Regions from separate parts of the Homo sapiens genome. Here all the other regions are linked to region 3. Evidence: fine-mapped expression QTL. A gene starts in region 3. Each other region holds a variant in brackets. All regions are shown on one strand. Distances are from middle to middle.

What was found.
Region 1: its variant is fine-mapped to the expression of MRPL23-AS1 in thyroid (GTEx, PIP above 0.99).
Region 2: its variant is fine-mapped to the expression of MRPL23-AS1 in subcutaneous fat (GTEx, PIP 0.97).

The regions. Positions count from the first base shown.
Region 1 is chr11:1,940,488-1,948,657 of GRCh38, reverse strand. MRPL23 (mitochondrial ribosomal protein L23) reads right to left here and starts at 1,326. Exons shown (of 5, transcript NM_021134.4): 1 at 1,279-1,326. The coding sequence starts at 1,295. The variant T/C (reference allele first, on the strand shown) is at 3,972.
Region 2 is chr11:1,880,098-1,888,267 of GRCh38, reverse strand. LSP1 (lymphocyte specific protein 1) reads right to left here. Exons shown (of 11, transcript NM_002339.3): 2 at 8,044-8,170; 3 at 6,672-6,836; 4 at 4,708-4,849; 5 at 4,244-4,336; 6 at 3,945-3,988; 7 at 3,687-3,768; 8 at 1,402-1,536; 9 at 954-1,031; 10 at 692-794. The coding sequence ends at 705. It overlaps PRR33 (proline rich 33), which reads left to right. Exons shown (of 1, transcript NM_001395380.1): 1 at 1-190. MIR7847 (microRNA 7847) reads right to left here; the gene lies at 8,121-8,170. Among named protein-coding and RNA genes, the nearest start is that of MIR7847, 4.1 kb to the right of the region's middle. RefSeq lists a silencer at 895-1,061 and an enhancer at 6,039-6,248. The variant G/A (reference allele first, on the strand shown) is at 3,618.
Region 3 is chr11:1,986,779-1,994,948 of GRCh38, reverse strand. MRPL23-AS1 (MRPL23 antisense RNA 1) reads left to right here and starts at 5,029. Exons shown (of 4, transcript NR_024471.1): 1 at 5,029-5,123. LINC01219 (long intergenic non-protein coding RNA 1219) reads right to left here and starts at 3,853. Exons shown (of 3, transcript NR_126400.1): 1 at 3,690-3,853; 2 at 2,669-3,011; 3 at 1,480-1,694. It also overlaps a transcript of MRPL23 not described here. RefSeq lists enhancers at 3,140-7,210, 7,205-8,059, 3,140-8,059.

The DNA.
Region 1 (8,170 bases), 46 kb after region 3:
TGGCTCACTGCCACCAGCCTGCCTCCCCACGGCCCCACGAGTGACTCACCCAGGATCCCACCCTCTCGGCACCCCCACCCCAGCTGCATCCAGTCCACAGCAAGTCCAGTCAGCGCTCCCTGCAAAGGCTCCCTGGCAACAGGAGTGTGTGCACTGCTGGGCGAGCGGGCCCCGCTGCCTCCAAGGCAACCACACCTGATCCGTTTCCAGGGGCCCACCACCCTTGGCCCTTCAGGAACACCCCACCCGGGTCCTCTGACCCTCACTTCCTCCTCATTCTCCAGGGACAGGCGAAGGGCCAGCGTGGAATTCACGTGAGGCTCAGGGCAGTGTTGGCCTCACTCAGACCTTTTCTTCCTTGGTGCTGGGTGTTCCCCAAGGTCAGGGCCACGCGCAGCACCGGTCCCAGGTGTCTGCTGAAGGAAGCCTCCTCCACTGGGGGTCCCACCTGCCACCCTCCCCTCTCTCCCCAGCTATGTGCAGGGGCCTCCAAAGCCACACCCTGGCCCCTTGACCGTCCCTCTCCAGAAACACTGATTACTGTTCTCCAAAACCCACCCGGGAGCCCACATCTACTGATTACGCCTGAGTCATTCGTTCACCAAGAAATATGCAGGGCTTCCTGCTTCAATTTGGGGAGGGCGAAGTGGTGCAGGACAGCGCCCCGATGGCCCCCTGGGAATCCAGAGAACATGCAGAGTGGGCGTGGGGGGTCTGGGCTGAGCAGAACCGGGCCTCCCGCCCTGCCTGCCCCAAAGCCCTGAGGGCTGCGGTCAGCTGCCCTTTCCCACTCAAACCCAATCTGGATTCCCAGCTCCTCTGCCTCAGGCCGCGCCCGCGCTGCGGTGGGGGCCGCCCGGGCCTCCCCGCCTGGACCCAACAGCCGACGTGGCCCCCGCCCCGTGACGATCAGAAACGTCTCCAAACAGCTCCCTCGGCCCTGGCTGCGGGACCAGCCCCGGGCCTGACCCCGGGCCACCCTCCCACTCCCCACGCGGGGGCACCGTGGCCTCCATGGGTTTGGCTCGGACCCTCTGTCCCCAGCCCGGCCACGCCCGCCCCCTGGGGTTGCCCTAAACCTGGCGGGGGGCTCCTCCGCCACCCGCCTCGCGTGTCTCAAGGCATGACAGGGGGTCCCGGAGAACCCTGCCTCGCCCGGGCCAGGAGGCGGCCCAGGGACGCCCACCCCGCTCCCCGGAGTCCGCGCGCCCTGTGGGGTCCGTCTGCTTGTGACACTAAGGGGCGCCCCGCGACGGGGGGGTGACGACCCCTACTCACACCACATTCCGCGCCATGGCGGCCACGCGCGCTTCCGGGGTCCGCGAGGCGGAAGGAGCAGCGCGCCCGCCCCGCACGGCCGCCGCCTGGCACAGCGCCCCCTCGCTTCCGGAGGCCGCGCCGCCCCCCCCGCACGCGCCAGCGCCCGTGCCGCGCGCCCGTGCCGTCCCCAGCCCTGCGCCCGCCCCGCCCCGCGCCGCCTTCTTCTCCCTCCCTGCCCCCCTCCTGTCCCGCACCCCACGTTCCTCCCCGCCCCGACCCCCACTCCCCGCGCCGCAGACTCCACAGGACGCGGGGCCGCAGCAGTCCCGCCCCGCACTCCCGGCCCCACAGCCTGAAGCCCGGGCCCGCGCCCCTGCTGCTCGCGCCCCGCCCACGCCCGCACCCCTCCCAGCCCCAGAGACCTCCCGCCGCCGTCGCACTCTTTCGGGCCTGTCTGCCCTGCCTCCCGGGACCCCGGCCTGCACGCCCCCCACACCCGTGCCCCTGCCCTTTGGCAGCTCCAGGCCACAGCCTGGCCCCGCACCGCTGCGCTTGCAGCTGCTGGGAGCTGGAAGTGGAGAACCGGGGCTGTAGTGCTGGGGAGGGCGGGTCCCCGGGCCTGGGGTCTGAAGCCCCTCTCTCCATCTGGCTGTTTTTACCCGGGAGCCCGGAACCCCAGGGCCCCTCACCTCGCCCTTCTGGCCAGCCCGGTTGGCAGCCCCCACGCTGGCCACACCAGCCACGCTGTCCATCCTCGGTGCTCCCACCACGCCTCCTCCAAGAGGGCCACTGGCCTCTTCAGGCCTTGCCGTTTGCTCACCCCCTCTCCACCCTTCTGGCCAGCCCCCTCCAGCCTCTGGCAAGGCCCTCTCTACAGGGACCCCCGTCCAAGGCCCAGTCCTCACTCCTTTCCTTGGGTAGTGCTGGCCAGGAGGGCTGCTGGGACCCTTCGGGAGTAGAGGGCAGCAGCCTCCCTCCCCTGTCCCCAGGCCTCTCCCTCCTCCCCTGGTTTCCTCTGCCTGGTGGCTGGATTCAGGCCACTTCTCCATCTATCTCTTTAACTGCCCGTGCCCCCCACCCCCAAGCCTGGCTTGTTCCCGCACCCAACAGCACCCTAAGTGTTCTTCAGAGCAAGAGGCAGGGGTGTCATGCTTCAGAGCAAGAAGCGGGGCCATGGGTCCTGGTTGTTGCTGGGGGCAGGGGGCCCAGGCCTGCAGGTGGGAACAGGGCTGCGGGAGGGCACTGGGGTTGATGGAAATTCAGGAGGAGGAGAGGGCACTGTGCCCCTCCGAGGGCCTGGGCCGGGTAGGGCTGGAGTTCCTCCTGATGGGTGGGTTTGAGTGGAAATGACTCCAGGGGGTCTATCTAGCATGAAGGCATTGAAGCAGGATGGAGTGAGAAGTGGGCCAGAGTGGGCAGGGAAGGTGGTGGCAGCCGTCCCCACTGTTGTCCAGGCCTGCGTGAGGTGGAGAAGCTCCAGGCTGCCAGTGGCAGGGTCCCAGGAGGCTGGTGACCAGACAGGCCTTTGCCCAGCAGCAGGTGCCCTTGGCCAGGCCCAAGGAGCAGACCGCAGGACAGGGATGGAGCTGGAGAAGGGGGGTCCTGGGGCCGGGGGTCCTCAGGCTTCCTTTTATGTTCATGCAATGCTGCCTCTTTCGGCAGCCACATTGTGCAGTGTGCTTAGAGATATGTGGCTGCTGGAAGTTGGGTTCAGAGTTGTGGGTGGCCGATGTGGAGAGGAGGGTGATTGGAGGCCGAGCTGTGGGTCACGGGTGGGTGCTGCTCAGATCACTGGGGCTGCTGGAGGGCGGCGGTTGAGCTAGGAGCTGAGGTCCTTCCTCAGGGCGAGGCAGGGGTGGGGTCACAATGGAGCAGACCCCTCACCACTCCTTCCATCCCTGTTTCTCTGATAGTCTGCTAATGGGATCCTCCGGAAGGCATGCTAAGTATGGGGGGTCTCTGAGATGCCTGGGGAGCCAGTGGAGACCTCCTCTTCCTCCTTCCCACCTGCCATTGAACACAAATGCCAGCGCGGCTTCCGCTCTGCCTGCCTCTCCTGAGATCAATGGTCTGCACGGGGTTGAGGCTGCCAGATAAATACAGGCCCAGTTAAATCTGAAGTTCAGATAAACAACTAATAAATTGTCATTTTATTTTTATTTGTTTATTTATTTGAGACAGAGTCTCACTCTCACTCTGTCGCCAGGCTGGAGTGCAGTGGCGCGATCTTGGCTCACTGCAATCTCTGCCTCCCGGGTTCAAGCAATTCTCCTGCCTCAGCCTCCTGAGTAGCTGGGATTACAGGCGTGCGCCACCATACCCGGCTAATTTTTGTATTTTTAATAGAGACAGGGTTTCACCATGTTAGCCAGGATGGTCTCCATCTCCTGACCTCGTGATCCGCCCACTTTGGCCTCCCAAAATGCTGGGATTATAGGCGTGAGCCACTATGCCTGGCCCTTATTTTATTTTATTGTATTTTATTTTTTATTTTTTGAGACAGGGTCACGTGTAGCCCAGGCTGGAGTGCAATGGCACAGTCTTGGCTCACTGCAGCCTCCACCTCGTAGGTTCAAGCAGTTCCCCTGACTCGGCCTCCCGAGTAGCTGGGATTACAGGTGCGGGCCCCCACGCCCAACTGATTTTGTATTTTTAATAAGGATGGGGTTTCGCCACGTTGGCCAGGCTGTTCTCGAACTCCTGACCGCAGG[T/C]GATCCACCTGCCTCGGCCTCCCAGAGTGCTAGGATTACAGGCATGAGCCACTGCACCTGGCCCAATAATTGGTCCTTTTTAAGTAGACCTTATCTTTTAGAGGAACTTTGGGCTTACAGAAAAATTGCTCAGGGAGTATACAGAGTTCCCACAGACCCCCTCTCCTTGAGTGCCCCTCCATTATTAACATCTTGCATCGTGTGGTGTGATCTGTTCCAATTGATAAACCAATACTGATGCATTACTATTAAGTCCAGAGTTTACCCCCAGGTTTCATCCTTGCAAAATGTCCTTTAGCCACCACTATGGTGTCACACAGAAGTGTCACTGCCTGAAAAGCTGCCTCTGCCCTGCCTGTGCATTCCTGCCTCCCCCGGCCCCTGGCAGCCCTGGCTCTTTCCACTGCCGCCTTGGCATTGCCCTCTCCAGGCTGTGGTATCATTGGAATCATACAGCACGTAGCCTTTCGAGATTGGCTTCTTGCCATGAGTGAGATGCAGCTAGGGCTCCTCTGGGTTTTTTTGTGGTTTCATAGTGCATTCTTTTCGGGCCGGATATTGTTCCATTGTCTGGATGTACCTCGGTTTATCCCTTTGCCTACGGAAGGACTTCTTGTTTACTTCCAAGTCTCGGCAGTAATGAATAAAGCCTCTGCAAACATGTGTGTGCAGGTTTTAGGGTGGACACAAGTTTTCAATTCATTTGCAGAAACACCCAGGAGGGCCATTGCTGGTTGTATGGTAGGAGGACGTTTGATTTTGTAAGAAACTGCCCCGCGGTCTTCCAAAGTGGCCGCACTGTTTGGCGTTCCCACTGCAAAGGTGGTGCTTCCTGCTGCTCCACGTCCTCAGCAACTTCTCATCGGTGTGTCGGGACATGCTCTTCTGCTTCCACCTGCTAGACCTGAGCCAGGAGCCCCGCTGCAAGGGCAGCCCCTAAACTGAGCTTTGCGAGTCAGGCTGGGGGAGCTGGGGCGTTTTTACAGTGAGGGTCCCTGAAGGGTTTTAAGGGAACGTACGAATTCAGCTGGGAAAGCACTTTCAGCCTGCAGATGAGAATCAGGTCGTGGGGGAGAGGGGCCGTTCACACATACACTCACTCATTCATTCATTCGTACAGAGGGTGGGGGGAGGGGCTGTTCACACACACACTCATTCATTCATTCATTCAGAGGGTGGGGGAGGGGCCGTTCATACATACACTCATTCATTCATACAGAGGGTGGGGGAGGGGCCGTTCACAGATACACTCATTCATTCATTCATACAGAGGGTGGGGGGGAGGGGCCGTTCACACATACACTCATTCATTCATTCATACAGAGGGTGGGGAAGGGGCTGTTCACACATACACTCATTCATTCATTCATTCAGAGGGTGGGGGAGGGGCCGTTCATACATACACTCACTCATTCATTCATTCAGAGGGTGGGGGAGGGGCCGTTCACAGATACACTCATTCATTCATTCATACAGAGGGTGGGGGGAGGGGCCGTTCACACATACACTCATTCATTCATTCATACAGAGGGTGGGGGAGGGGCTGTTCACACATACACTCACTCATTCATTCATAGACTCATTCATTCATCCCGCCAATAAACACACAAAAAGGTGCAAACACTTGTAGCGAAATCACTGTAAGCACAAACCAGTGAGCCACCATGTTCAAATGCAGGTTTTCAAAGATTAGGAAGAAATGGCAACCCCCTTGTTTTACCCAGCACCTACTTGTGCCAGGCCCTGGCTGCAGATCACCGGCTCTCACTGTCCAGGAACCAGACAGCCCAGGGGAGGCCAGACCCAGGCACCAGGATCCCTGGGGCAGAGCAGGCAGGACTCACAGGAGAGGCACAGGCAGCTCAGAAGGGTTGTTGCCAGCCCTTGCCCATCCTGCAGGCCACAGCGTGGACCACAAACCCTCCTTGCCTGCGTCCAGCATCCTCAGACCCTGTGTACCGGCTGGGTGACCATGGCTCTGGGAATGTGGCTTGCTCACATCCACAAAGCCATTGTGCATTACACCAGGATAGAACCCAGAAGACACCACCCCCCCAAACAGCCTGCGGCCCTCCCCAGAGCTGTGATAGACACACCCATTGCCCCAAAATTTTTCTCGTGCCCTGTGTGGCTCCCCATCCCATCCTGGATTTCCCAGTCTCAAGCAAGCAATGTCCTGGTCGGTTTCTGCTTTTGTATGTGTGTGTGTGTGTGTGTGTGTGTGTGTGTGTGTGTGTGTTTTGAGACGGTCTCACTCTGTTTCCCAGGCTGGAGTGTGGAAGTGCAGTGGCACAGCAAGAGCTCCTTGCAGCCTCAAAGCTCCTTGCAGCGCCAGCCTGTGATCACCAGCCACACACGTGGCCACCTGGCTTTTCTCCCAACCAGAAGAGAAGGCCCCCCACCCACATGGGAGGCTGCGTTTGGACAGGACCAGGACAGCAGGCGGGGGTGTGTTGGTGCTGCCCTGACGAAGCCCTTCAGAATCAGCTGCCATTAGAGACTTCTTGTCTCCCCATCAGCCCCTCCCTCTCCCTCCCCCCTCCCTCCCACCTTCCTCCCCCACTCCCTCCCACCTTCCCAGCCAACCTGGCCCCTTTGCTGCAGCAGCAGAGCCCCTCCCAGCACCTGCTCCTGGTGGCCCAGGGCTCAACAGTGCCTCCATTCTAGGAGTCCCATCTTAATCCCAGTTCCCCCCACCATTCTTGGCCTCCTAGGCACCCTGCTCTCGGGTGCCACAAAGAGGGGGTGGCAGAGGTAGTCAGCCTCTCACATGGCGTGGTCGGGGGCCTCTGAGGGTCCACGTGGGCCTTCTTGTGCCCCTGTAGCATGTGGGCTTCCCGGGCCGCAGGGCCTGGGCACGTGCTGACCCCGCACACTTGCCATGCCCTCTTCCCACGGAGGCCTCATTCACCCACCTCATTGAAAACTGCAGCCTCGGCCAGGCACGGTGGCTCACACCTGTAATCCCGACACTTTGGGGGGCCAAGGTGGGTGGATCATTGAGCCCAGGAGTTTAAGTCCAGCCTGGGCAACATGGTGAAACCCCTGTCTCTACAAAAAATAGACAAGTGAGCCAGGTGTAGCGGCGTGCGTGTATCGGTTGCTCATATTTCTGATTCCAGGGCTTGGCTGCTTCTGTCTGTCGCTCATGTTTTCTGCAGGCTGAATTGTGTCCTGCTTAAAATTCTTACCTTGCGGCCGGGCACAGTGGCTCACGCCTGTAATCCCAGCACTTTGAGAGGCCGAGGCGGGTGGATCACCTGAGGTCAGGAGTTGATCAGCTGGCCAACAGGGTGAAACCCTGTCTCTACTGAAAATACAAAAATTAGTCGAGTGTGGTGGTGCGTACCTGTAGTCCCAGCTACGAGGGAGGCTGAGGCAGGAGAATCGCTTGAACCTGGGAGGTGGAGGTTGTAGTGAGCCGAGATCGTGCCACTGCACTCCAGCCTGAGCGACAGAGTGAAATCCGTCTCAACAAAAAAAAAATCATATGTTGAAGCCTTAGTCGCTAATACTTCAGAATGTGACTGTTTTTGCAGATGGAGTCTTTAAAGACATAATTAAATTAAAATGGAGTCATATGGGTGGGTCTTAATCCAATAGGACTGGTGTCCTTATAACAAGAGGAGATGAGGACACAGACACGCACAGAGGGATAGCCCCGTTGGGGACACAGGGAGATGGTGGCATCTGCAAGCCCCGGAGAGAGGCCTCAGGAGGAACCAGCTCCACAGCACCTTGATCTCGGACTCCAACCTCCAGGACTGTGAGAGAATAAATGTCTGTCATTTAAGCTGCCCAGACTTGGTGCTTTCTTATGGCAGCCTGAACAAATTACTTAGGGTGGGAATGTTTTCCTGACGTGTTTTTCCAAGTGTCTTTAATGTATGAATGACATGACTCCTTCTCTGTCATACTTGATTCAAAATATTTTCCCAGTTTTGTCATTTGCCTTATACTTTTTAAAACCACCTTCGTTGAGGGTGTCATTGACACGCAGCCATTGCCATGTTTAAACTGCACGATTCCATCCATCTTAATCTACATAGACAGCCATGAAGCCAGCCCCATCAGGAGACAAACACCCTCATTGCCCCAAAATTGTCCTCGTGCCCTGTGTGGCTCCCCATCCCACCCTGGACCTCCCAGTCCCAAGCAACCAATGCCCTGGTTGGTTTCTGCTTGTGTGTGTGTGTGTG
Region 2 (8,170 bases), 110 kb after region 3:
TGGTGGGGGTGGCCAACCACAGGAGAGGGACACAGAGGTACCAGAAAAAGCCTCTGCCACAGCTGCTTGAGAGTCAGGGTTTGGCAGGGGAAGATGGTAGGAGGACAGCTGCCCCACCCTGTGGTGTGATGGGTGCTGGAAATGGAGCCTGGGGCCCAGGTCACTAATAAATGTGTGTCTCACCATGGCAGGAGTGGCACTGCTCTGTCTGCAGCATGGGATGGGGAGGGCATCAGGACCTCTGAATCGCTCTCGGCTGGGACAGGGAGTAGGACCTAAGTTCCTGCCCCTCTATGGACCCTCAGCATACAGATGGTCAGGGAACCTGGGCTCCATGCCACCTGCTTCCTTCAATGCTAGCCCTGTGGTGGCCAGGCTGCCCCTCACTTCCCTCACGAGCCCTGCTGTGGCTTTTGGGGAGTCCCAGATGGGAGCCTTGAGCTTCCCTAGTGGAGCAGTGGCTGAGCCGGGCTGACTCTAGTGAAATGAGCAGAGAGTTTGAATCTGGTATCAGGTGAGAGAGGCAGCATCTGCACAGGACTGGGAGACTGAGCTGGTCTGGGTTCTGGCCAACTCGGAGTCCACCCTTGTAGCCTGCAACAGGGCTCCAGGCAGCCTCCAGGTTGCCAAGTTCCCAGCACAGTGCACGTGTGTGCACCTCATCCCCTTCTGTGAGTTGCCAGGGACTCACCGAGATGGGACGCCTAGGGAGCCGGGCCCCCTTCCACAAGCACCTTCTCATACTTCCCATGCCCGGTGGCCACAAACTTATACCTCTTCCCAGATGGGGTGCTCTGTTGGGAAAGGAGACCAAGAGTGAAGGTGAGAGCAGCAGAAAGGAGATGATGCTGCCTCCGCCTCTGGGAAGCCCTCCCAGATGCACAGAGGACAGTCCCTCTTTGCCCTCCCCTGCTGCACCCACCCTGCCTGCACCAACCACATTTAGGCTCTACCTTAATTGTTGATGAGGTCTTGGAGCCTCCCTTCTGCTCCCAGAGGCTTTTCTTGCTCATGTCTCCAGCCACAATATCCTGGGGGCAGCAGAAGGGTATGTCACAAGGGCAGACCCCTGGATCTTGGGGAGTAGAAGCCCTGGGCCCTTCTCTCCCGCCTTGCCTTACCTGGCCAGGGGGCCTGGGATCTGCCTACCTAAACTTTTTCTGTGTGATCCCAGTGGAAGAGGCAGGGAAAGGAATAAAGGTGCCATCTACCTCCACTCGGACAACACAGCCTTCTACACCAGCAAGGGTGAACCCAACCCTACTGCAATACCTCAGGGTTCTGTATACCCACATTCATCCTGGACAGTCCCATGCTTGTCTTAACAAGGAAACCCGGCCTGCTACTAAACTCCCAGGCGCTGGCTCTGCAGCCCAGCCTTGCCCCTGGAGGGGACCTTACCTTGCAGGACGGAGTCTTGGCCGCAGACTGAGCCTGTACCTCACCCGTCTCCCACCGACTCTTGGTACTGGCCACAGCCATGCTGGGCAGCTCTATGGAGGCCTGGCGGGCTAGCTTGGGGGTCCGGCCAGCGGTCTGCAGAGGAGGAAAAGCATCAGGATTACCTTAGTGGACAGCCACCGTGGTCACATCAGAGGGTCACACTGGGCAACCGTCTGCTTTGTGTTTGTGTTTTCCCTGGGAGCGCTTTCCCAATGCAGCCCCAGAGTGGGGATCACTGGAAAGATGAGCCTTCCTCCATTCGATGCAGTTGTGAGACACCTCCCTGTCCTGAAGAGCATCAGGGAGATGATGGCGCACAGGACAGATGTGGGTCTGCCTCCATGCTCCTCATGGGGTAGGGCTGGGGGACCATGGGATGGATGGAGGGACATTGAATGGATAGAGGGACAATGGTTAAATTTCAGAGTATTGGTTGGATGGAGGAGCATTGATTAGATGGAGGAGTATTGGTTGTATAGAAAGGTGTTGATAGATGAAGGAATATTGATTGGATGGAGGAGTACTGATTATATGAGGGAGTGTTTGTTAGATGGAGGGGCATTGATTGAATGGAGTAGTATTGGTTGGATAGAGCCGTATTGGTTCAATGAAGGGGCATTGATTGCATGCAACGACGTTGATTGGATAAAGGAGTATTGGTTGGATGGAGGGGCACTGGTAGGATGGAAAGGTATTGACTGGATGGAGGAGCAGTGAATGAATGAAGGAGTATTGATTGGATGGGGAAGTATTGGTTGGATGGAGGAATATTGATAGGATACAGGAGCATTGATAGGACGGAGGAGTACTGGTTGGATGGAGAGGCATTAATTGGATGGAGGAATATTGGTTGGATAGAAGGATGTTGGTTGGATAGAGGAACATTGATTGCATGGAGGAGTACTGGTTGGATGGAGGAGTATTGGTTGGTTGAAGGGGGATTAATTGAAATCAGAAGTATTGCTTGACTAGAAGGGCGCTGATTGGGTGAAGGAGTAAAGTATGGATGGAGGGGCATTAATTGCATAGAAGAGCACTGATTGGATGGAGGAATACTGGTAAGATAGAGGAGTGCTTGTTGGATAAGTGAGTACTGGGTGGATGGAGGGGCACTGGGTGGATGGAGGGGCACTGATTTAGTAGAGTGTTGGTTGGATGGAAGGATACTGGTTAGATGGAGATGTCCTGATTAGATAAAGAAGTATTGGTTGAATAGAAGGGCATTGATTGGAAGCAGAGGCATTGATTGGGTGAAACTATTTTGGTTGGATGGAGGGAAATTGATGGGATAGAAGGCCATTGATTGGGTGCAAGGCATTATTGGATGGAGGGGCATTGACTGGATGAAGTTGTTTTGGTTGGCTGGAGGGGAATTGATTGAATGGAGGAGCACTGAATGAATAGGGGTATTGATTGGATGAAGGTGTATTGGTTGGATTGAAGGGAGTTGGTGGATGAAGGACTATTGGTTGGATGCAGGGACATTGACTGGATGGAAGAGTATTGGATGATTGGATGGAGAGGTACCGATTGAATGGAGGGGCTGGCATGTGGGACTGGCATTGGTTACATGGTGAGCCATTCATTGGATAGATGAGTATTGGTTGGATGGAGGGTATTGGTCAGATGGAGAAGCATTGATGGATGGAGGAGAATTGATTGGATGGGAGGGACATTGATTGGATGGAGGGACATTGGATGCAGAGGCACTGATTGGATGGAGTAGTATTGGATGGAGGGATGAATCTTGATTGGATGGAGGGGCACTGATTGGATTAAGGAGTACTGGTTGGATAAAGGGGGATTGATTGACTGGAGGAATATTGGCTGGATAGAGGAGCATTGATAGGATGAAAGAGCATTGATTGGGTGGTGGAGTACTGTTCCGAGGGGGGCATTGATTGAATGGAGGAACACTGAATAATTGGAGGAGTATTGGTTGCAGGAGTATTGGTTGTATAAAGGAACATTAATTGGATGCAGAAGCATTGATAGGATGGGAGATTATTGGTTGGATGGAGTAGCATTGATTGAAAGGGGGGGCATTGATTACATGGAGTGACATTGATTAGATGGAGGGGCATTGATTGGGTAGAGGGGCACTGACTGGATGGAGAAGCATTGGTTGGATAGGGTGTTGGTTGAATAAGGCGGCACTGATTGGATGGAAGGGC[G/A]TTGGTTGGATGAAGGAATGGTGCCAGGATGCAGGAGGGACCTGACAGCAGAGGGGAGCCAGGTCATACCTCGATGGCCTGGGTGTATTGTTCCAGCCACTGATCAATCTTGGAGATGGGCAAGTCTGGCTGGGATTTCTTCACACTGTTACTGGAGGGTAGAAGATGTGTCAGGCCCCATGTCTCCCACAAGGCTTCTCCCAACCTGCCCAAGCCTCTCCCAGAGCCCCCCTCGGTCTCCAGATCTCTACCTTGTGACTCCCTTCAACCCCCACTTGGTTAAACCTAAGATCTGAGCCCAGAAAGCAGACAGACAGACAGACAGACCTCTTCTCTATGGAGCGGTTTAGGGACTCGGTCCTGTCGATGAGCTGCAGAGGGTGGAGAGAGACACAGGCCTGCAGCAGCCGAGGTAAAGCCCACCCTCCATCTCCCCAGCTACTCCAACCACTAATCCAACCCCCAACCCTTATATCATGGGGGTTCGCTGAGCACCGGGCAATGGGGGGATAGCAGACAAAAGCCAGGCCTGGGCCTGGTCTTCCTGTGGCTGGCATGTGGGATTGGCCTTTTGGGTATGAGTACGGGAGAGGGGAGAAGATGGCAGGCTTTGCAGCTTAACTTACTTTGGTGGTAGGGCTCAGGGGAGGCGAGCTCTGTTCGATGGTCCCCTCCAAGACCAAGGGGCTGGGTGTCCTGGGCTGCTGACATTTCTGGTGCTAGAAAAAAAAAAACAGACATCCCAAGTGACCCCCTGCTTGTGCCCCTCCTGCCCTGCCCAGCACCTGTGGGAACAAATGCTGTTCCTTCCTGAGCCCCAGGTTCTCTGTGGCCCTGACGTGCTCCAGTTCTGGAGCTGGTGGGGAGGGACTGAGGAGTCTGGAGAGATGTCTCCGGATCTTGCAAGAGGATCACTGAGCCTTGCCCTCTCTGAGAATGTGGGCCCAGAAGGGGCTGCAAGGTCTAGGGGTGTGGGGTGCTGACCCACTCTGGGCTAGACCCACAGGGCCCACAGAGTGGTGCAGACAGCCAAGGCAGACTCATCCCTGGGGTGGGGGTACACCCAGACCCTCTGAGGTGGAGCCATCACCTCCTCCTGTTCCTCCTCAGCCCCTGCGGCCCCCAGGTTGTCCTGGACAGTGTCCTCTGGGCCTGGCCCCTCCTTGCTCAGACTCAACTCCTCCAGGTGGACTTCATCACTGTCCTCCTTTTCGTAGGCATGCAGGCCGGGCCTGTGGGTGGAAAGGGAGGCAAAGCCGTTCTAGGGCCATTGGATTGCTTGGTTGACCCCTTCCTTTTTCCAAGCCTCAGTTTCCCCATCTGTAAAATGAAGGTAGTCAGGCTACTTGAGTGCCAAGGGATCTGAGACCCAAGCCCATTGGGAAAGAAGGTCCAGTGGCCTCAGAGCCAGCGCAGTCTGCTTGGGCCCCTGTGTCAGGGCCTGAGGCCCCTGGGGAACTGCCCAGTCCCTGCCAGACAGGGCTCTACAGACTGAGGGTCCCCCAGGCACTGAGGCTGGGTTCAATCCCCAGCTTTGTGGCTGGGCCTCAGCTTGGCAGCTGCTTGCACACCCGGTTGGTCTGACGGGGTCCCCGCGAGGCCGGGCTGCTGGGGCCACCACTCCTGCTCTGCTCCCTGTGGGGGCCCTTGGGTGTTTGGGGGACTGGAGGCTGGGTCATTTGGAGGGCTAGGCAGGGGTAGGGGCCAGGTCACTGAGGAGCAGGGCCAAGGGGCTGCCGGCTGCGGGGGAGGGGAGGCCAGCCAGCTGGCAGCTTTGAGCGGCTCTGCATTTGAGCAGGACTGAACCTGGAGGAGAAGATGGGAAATTCTCGAATTTTCCATGATTTCAGGCCCCTGGGTGTGCGTGCCAGCCAAGACCCAGACCCACCCGCCCAAGGTGGGCAGGGGTCTGAGCCAGCAGCAGCCACACAGAGGGGCCATTCAGGAGCAGGTCTGTGCAGCCAGGCAGGTGCAGGGGGTGGGGTGGCGGCCGCAGAGCTGGGCTCCACGGAAGAGTCAAAGCGCCCCCTGCTGGTGGGAGCAGCCTCGCCCGCCTAGGCCTGAGGCCAAGGGAGAAGGGAGCTGCCCCATCTCAGAAAAGCAGAGCCGCTGACTCCCAAGCACGTAGGGGGGAGACTGAGGCCCAGGGAGGGGGGCGGTGGGCACTGCGCCAGGCCAGGACCAGTGGTTCTTGGGGAGTGGGAGCCTGGTTGTAGGAGGACAAGGGAGCGTCGCTCAGCAACACTGGTCCCTAGAGCTCCAGGCTGGTTTAGGGCCTCAGAGGGGCCAGGAAGGACCCTGACCAGGGAGAACTGTCAGCCCAGCCATGGGCTCTGGTCCCACTCAAGGCAAGGGGGTCCTGAGCAGGGCTGGGGTCCCAGATGGCCCAGGCCCTGCAGGGCGGGTGGGGTCAGCCCCATCATGGCCACAGATGACTGAGAGCGGCAAGGACCCCGAGCAGGGGTAGTGAAGTGGGGCTCGGGAGCAGCCCCTGTTGGGCCTGTTGGGGTTGAGACAGGCACACACATCCCCACATCTGGAAAGTGCGTCCTCCCGGCCGACTCTCCGGCATGCACATCTGGAAATACCTGCTCCCCTCCGTGGGAATGGAGATCAGCCAGCCCCGAGGGAGGAAGGGGCGGCGGCGGGCTCTCAGCCTCCATTACGGAAGCGGCCGCAGCTGTGTGCTGATGTGGCAGCACCCGGCCTGGCCTCGCAGCTGCCTGGATGGGGCCCAGGGGCCCTGGGGAGCCCCAGAATGAGGTTTCCTCGCGGCCCCTCGCCGGCCACCATGCTGTCTCGCCCTCTTCCTCCCTCCCCTCCTGTCTCCCCCTTTCCTGGCCATGGGGGCATTTCAGGCTCTGCTTGGAAAGGGGAGGATGGGGTGGCTGCTCAGGCGCAGGTTGAGGGCCTGAAGGGAGCTCCGCGGTGCCCTGCTCTGCCCAGCGCCCGCCCTCGAGGTCCAGAGGGAGCCCTGCTCTGCCCAGCGCCCGCCCTCGAGGTCCAGAGGGAGCCCTGCTCTGCCCAGCGCCCGCCCTCGAGGCCCTCACTCACCTGTCCTCTTGCTCCCCCTCAGGACTCCTGCACTGGGGGGGCTCTCCGCTGTCCAAGGCGCCCTGCGCCCCCTCGTGCTGCTGCCGCTGCTCTGGCCTCTGGGACCAGTCGCCAAAGCCCTCGTCCTCATCCAGTTCAGGGGCCTCCGAGGGCTTCAGGCTGAGGCTGAGGGTAGCAGGGGGGAGCTTAGGCCTGGGCGGCTGCTGCCTCCTCTGCCCAGGGCCCACACTCACCTCACGGCGCCCGCTCAGGCCCTGGACTCCAAGTGTGGGAGACCCTGTCTGCCACAGAGCTGGCTCTGGGCTGTGTCTCCTGTGGTCAGAATACCTGAGGGCAGGGCTATGCCTCCCCCGTCAGTTCTGGGGCAGCCTGAGAACTGTGCTTCCTCCATCAGTCCAGGACTCCTTGAGGCTCAGCAGGGCTATGCCTCCTCCATCAGCCTGGGGCTACCTGAGGGCAGGGCTATGCCTCCCTCATCAGTTTGGGGCTCCCTGAGGGTAAGGCTGTGCCTCTTCGATCAGTGTAGGGCTCCCTGAGGACAGGGCTGTGCCTCCCCTGTCAGCCTGTGGCTCCCTAAGAGCAGGGCTGTGCCTCCCCCATCACTCTGGGACTCGCTAGGGCAGGGCTGGGCCTCCCCCGTCAGCCTGTGGCTCCCTAACAGCAGGGCTGTGCTTCCCCCATCAGTCTGGGGCTCCCTAGGGCAGGGCTGTGCCTCCCCCATCATCCTGGGGCTCCCCAAGGGCTGCCCTGGTCCCCACATGAGGACCCTACATGAGGTCCTCCTAAGCCCCGACTTCTCAGGCCTCCCATGTGGCAGGGGGAGCCCCTGGATAGCTGGGGCCCTTGGTGGGGGTGGCCAAGGGCCTGACTATGGTGACCGCTGAACCCCACTCTGCCCAAGGCTGCTGACTTGGAGAAAATGGAACAAAAGAGGCCAGAAGGAAGGGAAGCATTATTGGAAAAACAGCCCAGCCCAGCCGCGGAGGCCTCCTGGGCCCAAGGAGGAAGCAAGCCAGCCTGGCCGCCAAGTTGGACGTGGCTCTGTGAGTCACTGGCGGGGGAGTCTGGTGGGGGGCTCGGCCAGGCTGCGTGGCTGGGGTCAGAGGCGGTCCGAGCAAGGGCCAGGGCACGGACACAGAGCCTGGGTCAGCGCCCAGGAGGCAGCCAGGTATTGGCAGACCCTCCTCTAGGGCTGTGGCCACCCTCGCCCCAGGAGCACTCACCCACTCCCACGCCTGCTCCTGGGGGCCCTTCCTCGCTCTCATCCTGCACTGGAACCCCCAAGCCCAGGCCCTTGACCTCCCCCTCTGCCCAGGCCCCAGGGTACACGGATAGGGGCTAGAGCCCAGGCACGCGTTATGGGGCTGCTCACAGCATCTCCTGCTTCGGCCGCTCGGGGACATGGCCGCCTCCCTCCTCGTCCTGGGCCTGAAGCTGCCTGTCTCTCTCATGCTGGCATTGCTCGTGGACGGCCTCCTCCTCGTCCTCCACGCTCCACT
Region 3 (8,170 bases):
CAGTGGAGGGGCTGTGGGACCAGGGGCTTCACAGACTGGGCGGGGGCTGGGCTTGCGGAGGGGGCCTGCGCTCTGAGGCAGGGGTCGGGGACCACCAAACCATCCCCGAGCGAGTGCCTCCTGTCGCCCCAAAGTCCCATCAGAATGACGCCTTGGTGCTGGCCCCAGACCCCTGAAGCCCGGGCTAGGTGACTGGGGTAGAGCTGGCCATGGCCGCTCTGGGAGGCCCACAAGGTGCTCTGGGCGACCCCACCCCGACAGGGGCACGAACCCCGCGCCAGTCCCGTTCCTGCTCCCCTTTTGCTGTGGGTGGGAGCCGGGGCCACGCCGGAGGGACGGCCCCGCACAAGGAGCCAGGGGGTTGTGGGGGAGCCGGTGGGCTTCTCAGTGGGCAGGTGGCCTTGGGGCAGAGGTCCTAAGGAGGCCAGGGGACCAGGAGGAGGGAGGAAGAAGTTGAGGGTGGCCACAGGGAGGAGGTGAGGAGGAGCGGGAGGGCCCAGGGTGAGGGGCTCCCGGGCTCCCTCCCCGGGGTCTTGCTGCTGGAGCTCCAAGAACCCCGGTATGCAGGGGTTCGCTCCCCAGGTGCCAAGGCAGCCCACTCATGGGTTCCGGGTCAGCTTCCCCGCAGAGGCCAGTGGCCGGCAGCTCCCTCAGCCAGGCCTCCCAGCTCCCGGCCCCTCGCTGTGCAGGCGCTGGGAACACAAGGGGCAGCCCCTGGAAATAAGGGTGGGGTCCCGGCCTCCCCATTCCTTCCCCCCTCCCCCCTGCCTTCCACCCCCATTCCCAGTGCACAGAGCTGTCAGGAAAATTCCTCCCCGACTGACAAAGAACAGACAGGAAGGCGGTTAGGGACGCCCCTCCCCTACCGGCCCAGCCGCCCTTGGGGTCTTGGTGTCCAGGGCGGAAGAGCAGGGTGGTTCCCCACGTCCCTTGGGTCTGGCCTCCCCTCTGCACCCTCTCTTGCCCCCTCCCCATCCAGCTGTGGGCCCTGGGGACTGTCAGAGACCGAGGGGTTTCCAGGGACACACTTGTGTGCTAAAACCTGGGCGGGTGGTCACCCCCCAGGATGCATGTAGACATCCGGTGAGGGAGTCTCTTGAAGTCTCTGGGATGGTGCCCCTGGGACTGGCTGCCATCTCATGGAGGAGGTCAGAGGTCGCTGGGGCCAGCCCAGGGTGAGGCCGCATTCATCTTCCTGACCCTACAGGCCAATTTGACTTACCCAAGTGGGTTTTGGCCGGCAGGATGAAGTAACCCATCCATTACATGTCAAGAGTTAGGTCTATAAACGGCCTTTATTATAAACATCCAACTCTGCAGGAGGTTTACAAAGCAGGGCTCAGGAGATAAAAGCCGGCTTCCCCAGGTGGCGGCTGCAGGGTGCGGCAGGCAGCCCCAGGGGTGCCCAGGGTGGCGGGGCAGGGGAACCGTAGGGAGGGGGAGAGGGGCACCCAGAAAACCTCTCCTGGAGAACATGGAAGACTCTGCCCACTTCAAATCCCTGCCTGGGGAAGGACACATGGGAATGGGGCCGGGGGAAAAGGCGGGCCACCTCGGGCCTTCGTCACCTGTGTCAGCTCCTAGGGATTGTCTCCTCCTGGTCACTTGGAGAGAACAGGCGTGCTGGACACGTCCACATCTCTGGGCCCGGGGTGTATGAATGACACGCTTGCTCTGGAGTTTCCACCTGGGAGCTGTATGGGGACAGGGCTGTTCCTCCTCACACCCGCTGGGGAAGGGACACAGGCCTCTTGGTGGCCCCCACCATCTCCCAGCACTGCCCATGGCTGTGCCCACGCTGGCTGCCCCCTGAGAGCAGGACGTGTACTCAGGGGCAGCGCCTACCTCTGGGCAGCCCAGGTTTCTCTGCTCCCTGCAGCGGAACGGGCTTCCTAGGGCAGTTCCTGGGGTGGTGTCCCTAGGGCAGCCCCTGAGTGCTGGAGGGGGTCTGGGCCACAGGCCCTGAAACAGGGAGGTGGTGGGGGCAGCGTTCAGGGGGCTGAACCTCAGGGTGAGGCGGGCAGGCGGGGAGCCACAGGCCCGGGGGCCCCGCAGCAGGTGCTCAGCCTCGGAGCCTCCTGCCGCACCCCGGGGCGGGGGCTGGGAGCCCGCCCGAGCCCCTAGCTCTGAGCGACCTGCCAGGTTGGAATGTGTGTTTATCTTTGGCCCAACCCGATTTCCTGCTTTTTAGAAAAGGGGCTTAGAGAGGGTTGTTAGACAGGCTCCAGGCACCCCAACACCCAAAGGCACTTTGAAAACGCCCCTGCACTGACTTCAGTGCGGAGAAGCAAACGGGCTGGAATTTCACTCCCAAACCCCAACATGGGGGTGGCGGGGCCGGGGTGAGGGTTGTGGCTGCCTGCAAAGGTGCCAGGAAATCTGGGGAGGGAGGAACTTCCACCGTTCAGGGAGACCCTGAGGGTGCCCTGGCTTCTGGCCACGTCCCAGACCCTGTTAGGCACCGAGGTCTTCACACCCAGACCCTCCACCCACCCAAGTTTCTGCGGCACGTTTAGGTTGAGTGAAGACCAAGTCATCCAGTTAGAGAAGAGGACTTGAGGCGCGTGCTGCTGCTGTGGCCACGCTGGACCCTCGGTGCACGCATCTCCTGGCGAGTCCCCTGTGGCTCTGTGGGCCGTACACACCCGGGGCACGCGACCTCAGCTACCTTGTCACCGAGGACGTGCATCCACAGCTGTGCGTCTGTGCCTGGGAGCGGGGTCTCCACTTGGTGGGTCTCTGCATGCTGACCAGTTAACCCGCCTTTCCGGGCTGTGGAGGGCGTGGGTCCTGTCCGGCCCGGAGATGCTCCGCGGGGTGTGTGTGTGATCGTGGCCCTGTAGCGGGGTGGTGTTCCCTGGAGGGTGGACCCCTGAGCCTGGCTGTGTGTGGCTGTGTCTCAGCATGAATTCCGTGACCCAGGAGCACGTTTTCAGGCAGGGATTAGGGGCAGCTGGGTGTGGGAGGCAGGCACTTGGTATACCACCGAATGGAGACAGAAAATCCCAACTCTACGAAGGAAGTGAAGTCCCTTCAACAGGGACAAAGCGATGTTTTGGGTCTGACTACAATGCACCCTGGGAAGTCTCAAAGAAAACAGTCGGGGACTCAAGGAGGGCAGCCCCCTCTCCCCGACCCCGAGCTCCCAGGAAGATAAATGATTTCCTCCTCTCTAGAGATGGGGGTGGGATCTGAGCACTCAGAGCCAAGGGCGCAGTGGGTCCGGGCGGGGGCCCTCCTCGGCCCTCCCAACATGGGGGCCAGGAGGTCAGCCCCTCAACCTGGACCCCGGCTGGGTCTCAGGGAATGGTCTCCCCCAGTGGCCCAGCTTGCTTGTGTTTTCAGATGGGTGTGCACGGGTGTGTGTGTGTGTGTGTGTGTGTGTGTGTGTGTGTGTGATGCCTGACAAGCCCCAGAGAGCCAAAGACCTGAGTGGAGATCTTGTGACTTCTCAAAAGGGGGATTGGAAGGTTCGAGAAGGAGCTGTGGTCAGCCTTGCTCTCCCTTAAGGCTGTGGTAACCACACTAGGCATAGCATAGGCCTGCGCCCCGTCCCTCCTTCCCTCCTCCGCGCCTCTCCTTTCTCTTTCTCCCCCCTCTACCCCGCTCCCTGGCCTGCTCCTGGTGACACCGTTGGCCCCCTTCCAGGGCTGAGGGAAGCCAGCGGGGGCCCCTTCCTGGAAGCCCACCTGCAGGCCGGCTTGCTGGGAAGGGGCTGCTCTCGCAGAGGCTCCCGCCCGCCCTGCAGCCGTTTCCTGGAAGCAGTCGCTGTGGGTATTCTGTTCCTTGTCAGCACTGTGCTTGCAAAGAAAGCAGACACTGTGCTCCTTGTCCTTAGGGAGCCCCGCTCCATCACCCAACACCTGGCTGGACACAGGCGGGAGGCCGGGTCCGCGGGGAGCGGCGCGGGGCTGGGGCCGGACCAGTAAACACACACGGGCGCCAGGCACTGCAGGCTCCTCCTCCTCCTCCTGCCCAGCGCCTCTGCTCACAGGCACGTGCCAAGCCCCTAGGCCAGGAGGCCCAGCAGTGGGTGCAGAGCAAGCTCCTGGGAAGGGGGTGCAGGGCGGACCCCCGGGGAGAAGGGCTGGCAGGGCTGTGGGGGACGCTGACCGTGGGCCCCACGTTGCAGAAAACTGGCTGCCTGGCTGGAAGATGGGGGAGATGCCAAGCCTCTGAGGCAGCACGAGCAGGGTGCATGGAGGCCGGGGCGCGGGGAGGCTGCACTGCAGCATGCACCCCAAAGCCCAGAGGGAGTGGAGACCAGGCCCTGGAATCGAGAAGTAGAAAGGCGGCTTGGAGGCCTCGGAACCGGCTGACCTCCAACAGAGTGGGGCCGGCCCTGGAGGCAAAGAGGTGCCCGGGGTCCGGCCCTGCCTGGGGGAGCTATGTGTCATGGGCAGCCACAGGATATGTAGCCAGCTCTGAGCATATGGACCCAGGGCAGGGCTGCAAGGCAGGGCAGGGGAGACAGACGGGGGAGCAAGGAGCAGAGAGGGGGCCTCAGGCTCTCCCAGGAGGAACATTCTCCCGACAGGAGGAAGAGACGGCCCAGGGGTGACTGTGGGGAGCCATGGTGGCAGCTGGGGTCGTGGCAGATGGGAGAGAGGCTGGCGAGGTGAAGGTGCAGGGGTCAGGGCTCTGGGGCCCACATGCCTGTGGGAGCGGGCAGGCCCAGGGCTCTCCGCCACTCCCCACTCCCGCTTGGCTCATAGGCTGGGCCCAAGGGTGGGGTGGGATGAGCAGGAGATGGGGCCCAGGGGGCAAGCAGGGCCCCAAAGACATTTAGAAAAACCGGTTTATGCAGGCAGCATTCAGAGCAGGCGGCGTGCGTGGCGGGGGCCCTGGGAGCACAGAGAGGCACACGTAGGGCCCCCGAGGGTCTCCCCATTGGCCGGCAGTGACATCACCCCTGTGTCAACAGTGATGTCTGCAGCTCCGGCCAGCCAGGGTTTATGGAGCGAGACCCAGCCCGGCCTGGGCCCTCACTCCCCAGGCCCACACACTAGCCCACTGTTCAGGGTCCGGGGTGGCAGCATGGCCTGGGGGTCCTGGCACCGCTGCTCCTCTGCCCACCCTAACTTCCCGGCATGGCGGCTGCCCCCTCTGAGCGTCCCCAACCAGTAAGTGTGGGGCCAGCAGGCCTGCCGTCCTCCTCCTCTTCCCTCTAGAGAGAAACGTGGAGGTCCTGGGGCTGGGGGCGCTCATAGCCCTGTGACACAGGTGCATGGGGTCAGGGGTCCCAGAATGGCCCCTGGGAAGGACCTCAGCTGGGCCGGCGGCTCTAGGCTTCAGGGGTCTGTCTGCACAGGGGCTAGCCCCTCCCAGACCTCTGTGAAGCCAGTACGGGCCTCCCCTCCCTGCCCCGTGCTCTGTCCGGTGCTTCCTGGACTGCACTGCGGGCCACTGGTGAGAGGGTGGACAGGGAAGGGCCGCCGTGGTGCCTGTTCCTGCCCACCTGGCTGTGTGGTCCCCTCCAAGTAGGGACAACCCTTCTGAGGGCTTGGGGGCACCCTGGGGTTGCCAGGGCCTCCCAGAGCCCTGTGAGCCCCTGGGGGGTCTGGCCTGATGCCCCCCTCCACGTCCAGGGCCGGCTGTGGCCCAGAACCCCAGCTTCCCAGCAGGCCGGTGTGCGGTGGTGACCCAGGAGAGGCCTCACCTCCACTGAGGGGCCACCGACCTCTGCCAGGCCACAGAGACCCCCAAGGAGTCTGAAGGCTGGAGACCCGGGGCTGGGACCAGGTGGGACTTTCCCACGGAGCCGCCCCCAGGCCCAGCTGGGGACACGTCCCCCTTCTCTCCAGACACACCCTGCCTGCCACCACGACACACCGGCCTGTTGGGGGTCTCTTTTAAGTGCTTGCCACTCTGAGGTGACTGTCCCTTTCCAAAGAGGTTTCTGGGGCCCAGGTGGGATGCGTCGGCCTGAGCAGGAGGATCTGGGCCGCCAGGGGCTGGGGACTGTCTCCTGGGGAAGGAAGCGCCTGGGAGCGTGTGTGCTGACCCAGGACCATCCAGGGAGGCCCGTCTGTGGGGCAAGCGGGAAGGGAGCGGCTGGAGAGGCTTGGCCGCCCCCGCCCTGCCTCCCATTCCTTAGCTCCATGCCTGTCAACCTCTGTCACCCAGTGAGTGATGTCCAGGGGCCCTGGAAAGGTCACAGCATGTTTGAGCGGGGTGAGAGAGAGGGGAAAGGCGGGGGCGGGGAAAAGTACGTGGAGGAAGCTCTAGGCCCAAGGAAGGAGAAAGGGTTCTGGGAGGGAGGGAGCCACTGGGGCCGCCGGGAAGGTCCCTGCCTGCTGCTGCCACCCAGAACCCTCGCCTCTTAGCTAGCCCCCGCAGCCCCAGCCTTTCTGGCCTGTGCCCCTCTCCCCCATCCCCAGCTGTCCTGTGCAACCAGGCCTTGGACCCAAACCCTCCTGCCCCCTCCTCTCCCTCCTCACCCTCCCAATGCAGTGGTCTCCAGCCTGGCTCTGCCCTGCCGCAGGTCCCCTCCCCTCATTCCAGGCCTAGAGCCTCCAGTCCCGGTGGCCCCCAGCCCGAGGGTGAACGGCCTCACCCTGGGTCGTGGGACAGAGGGCACGTTCATCAAGAGTGGCTCCCAAGGGACACGTGGCTGTTTGCAGTTCACAGGAAGCATTCGAGATAAGGAGCTTGTTTTCCCAGTGGGCACGGAGCCAGCAGGGGGGCTGTGGGGCAGCCCAGGGTCAAGGCCAGGCTGTGGGGCTGCAGCTGCCTTGGGCCCCACTCCCAGGCCTTTGCGGGAGGTGGGAGGCGGGAGGCGGCAGCTGCACAGTGGCCCCAGGCGAGGCTCTCAGCCCCAGTCGCTCTCCGGGTGGGCAGCCCAAGAGGGTCTGGCTGAGCCTCCCACATCTGGGACTCCATCACCCAACAACTTAATTAAGGCTGAATTTCACGTGTCCTGTGACTTGGGTAGACAAAGCCCCTGTCCAAAGGGGCAGCCAGCCTAAGGCAGTGGGGACGGCGTGGGTGGCGGGCGACGGGGGAGATGGACAACAGGACCGAGGGTGTGCGGGCGATGGGGGAGATGGACAACAGGACCGAGGGTGTGCGGGCGATGGGGGAGATGGACAACAGGACCGAGGGTGTGCGGGACACGCATGTCACTCATGCACGCCAATGGGGGGCGTGGGAGGCTGGGGAGCAGACAGACTGGGCTGGGCTGGGCGGGAAGGACGGGCAGATGGGATCCCAAGGACATGGAATTTCGGACCTTCTGTCCCCGCCCTCTCTGCTGAGCCTAGGAACCTCTGAGCAGCAGGAAGGCCTTGGGTCTAGAGCCTAGAAATGGACCCCCACGTCCACCTGCCCAGCCTAGACCCCCAGCATTGAAGGGTGGTCAGACTTCCTGTGAGAGGAAGCCACTAAGCGGGATGGACACCATCGCCCACTCCACCCGGCCCTGCCCAGCCCTGCCCAGTCCAGCCCAGTCCAGCCCAGCCCTGCCCTTCCCAGCCCTGCCCAGCCCAGCTCATCCCTGCCCTACCCAGCCCAGCCCTGTCCTGCCCTGCCCAGCCCAGCCCAGCCCAGCCCTGCCCTGCCCTGCCCTGCCCTTCCCAGCCCTGACCTTCCCAGCCCTGCCCAGCCCAGCTCATCCCTGCCCTACCCAGCTCAGCCCTGCCCTGCCCTGCCCAGCCCTGCCCAGCCCAGCCCTGCCCTGCCCTGCCCAGCTCAGCCCTGCCCACCCCAGCCCAGCCCAGCCCAGCATGCCTTCTCTGGCTGGAGAGCACAGGCTTGACCTTAGAAAGAGGCTGGCAACGAGGGCTGAGGCCACCAGGCCACTGGGTGCTCACGGGTCAGACAAGCCCAGAGCCTGCTCCCCTGCCACGGGTCGGGGCTGTCACCGCCAGCATGCTGTGGATGTGCATGGCCTCAGGGCTGCTGGCTCCAGGCTGCCCCCGCCCTGGCTCCCGAGGCCACCCCTCTTATGCCATGAACCCTGTGCCACACCCACCTCTGAGCTGTCCCCGCTCCTGCCGCCTGCACCCCCTGAGCAGCCCCCTGTGTGTTTCATGGGAGTCTTAGCAAGGAAGGGGAGCTCTTCAATCTTGCCAGTCAGGGTGCTGTCTGCTGAGTAAGTGTCCCCGTGCTGTGCCCCAATGTCCCCATCCTTTGGCAAACAGCCATCAGCCTGTGGATCCTGCACTCCCAT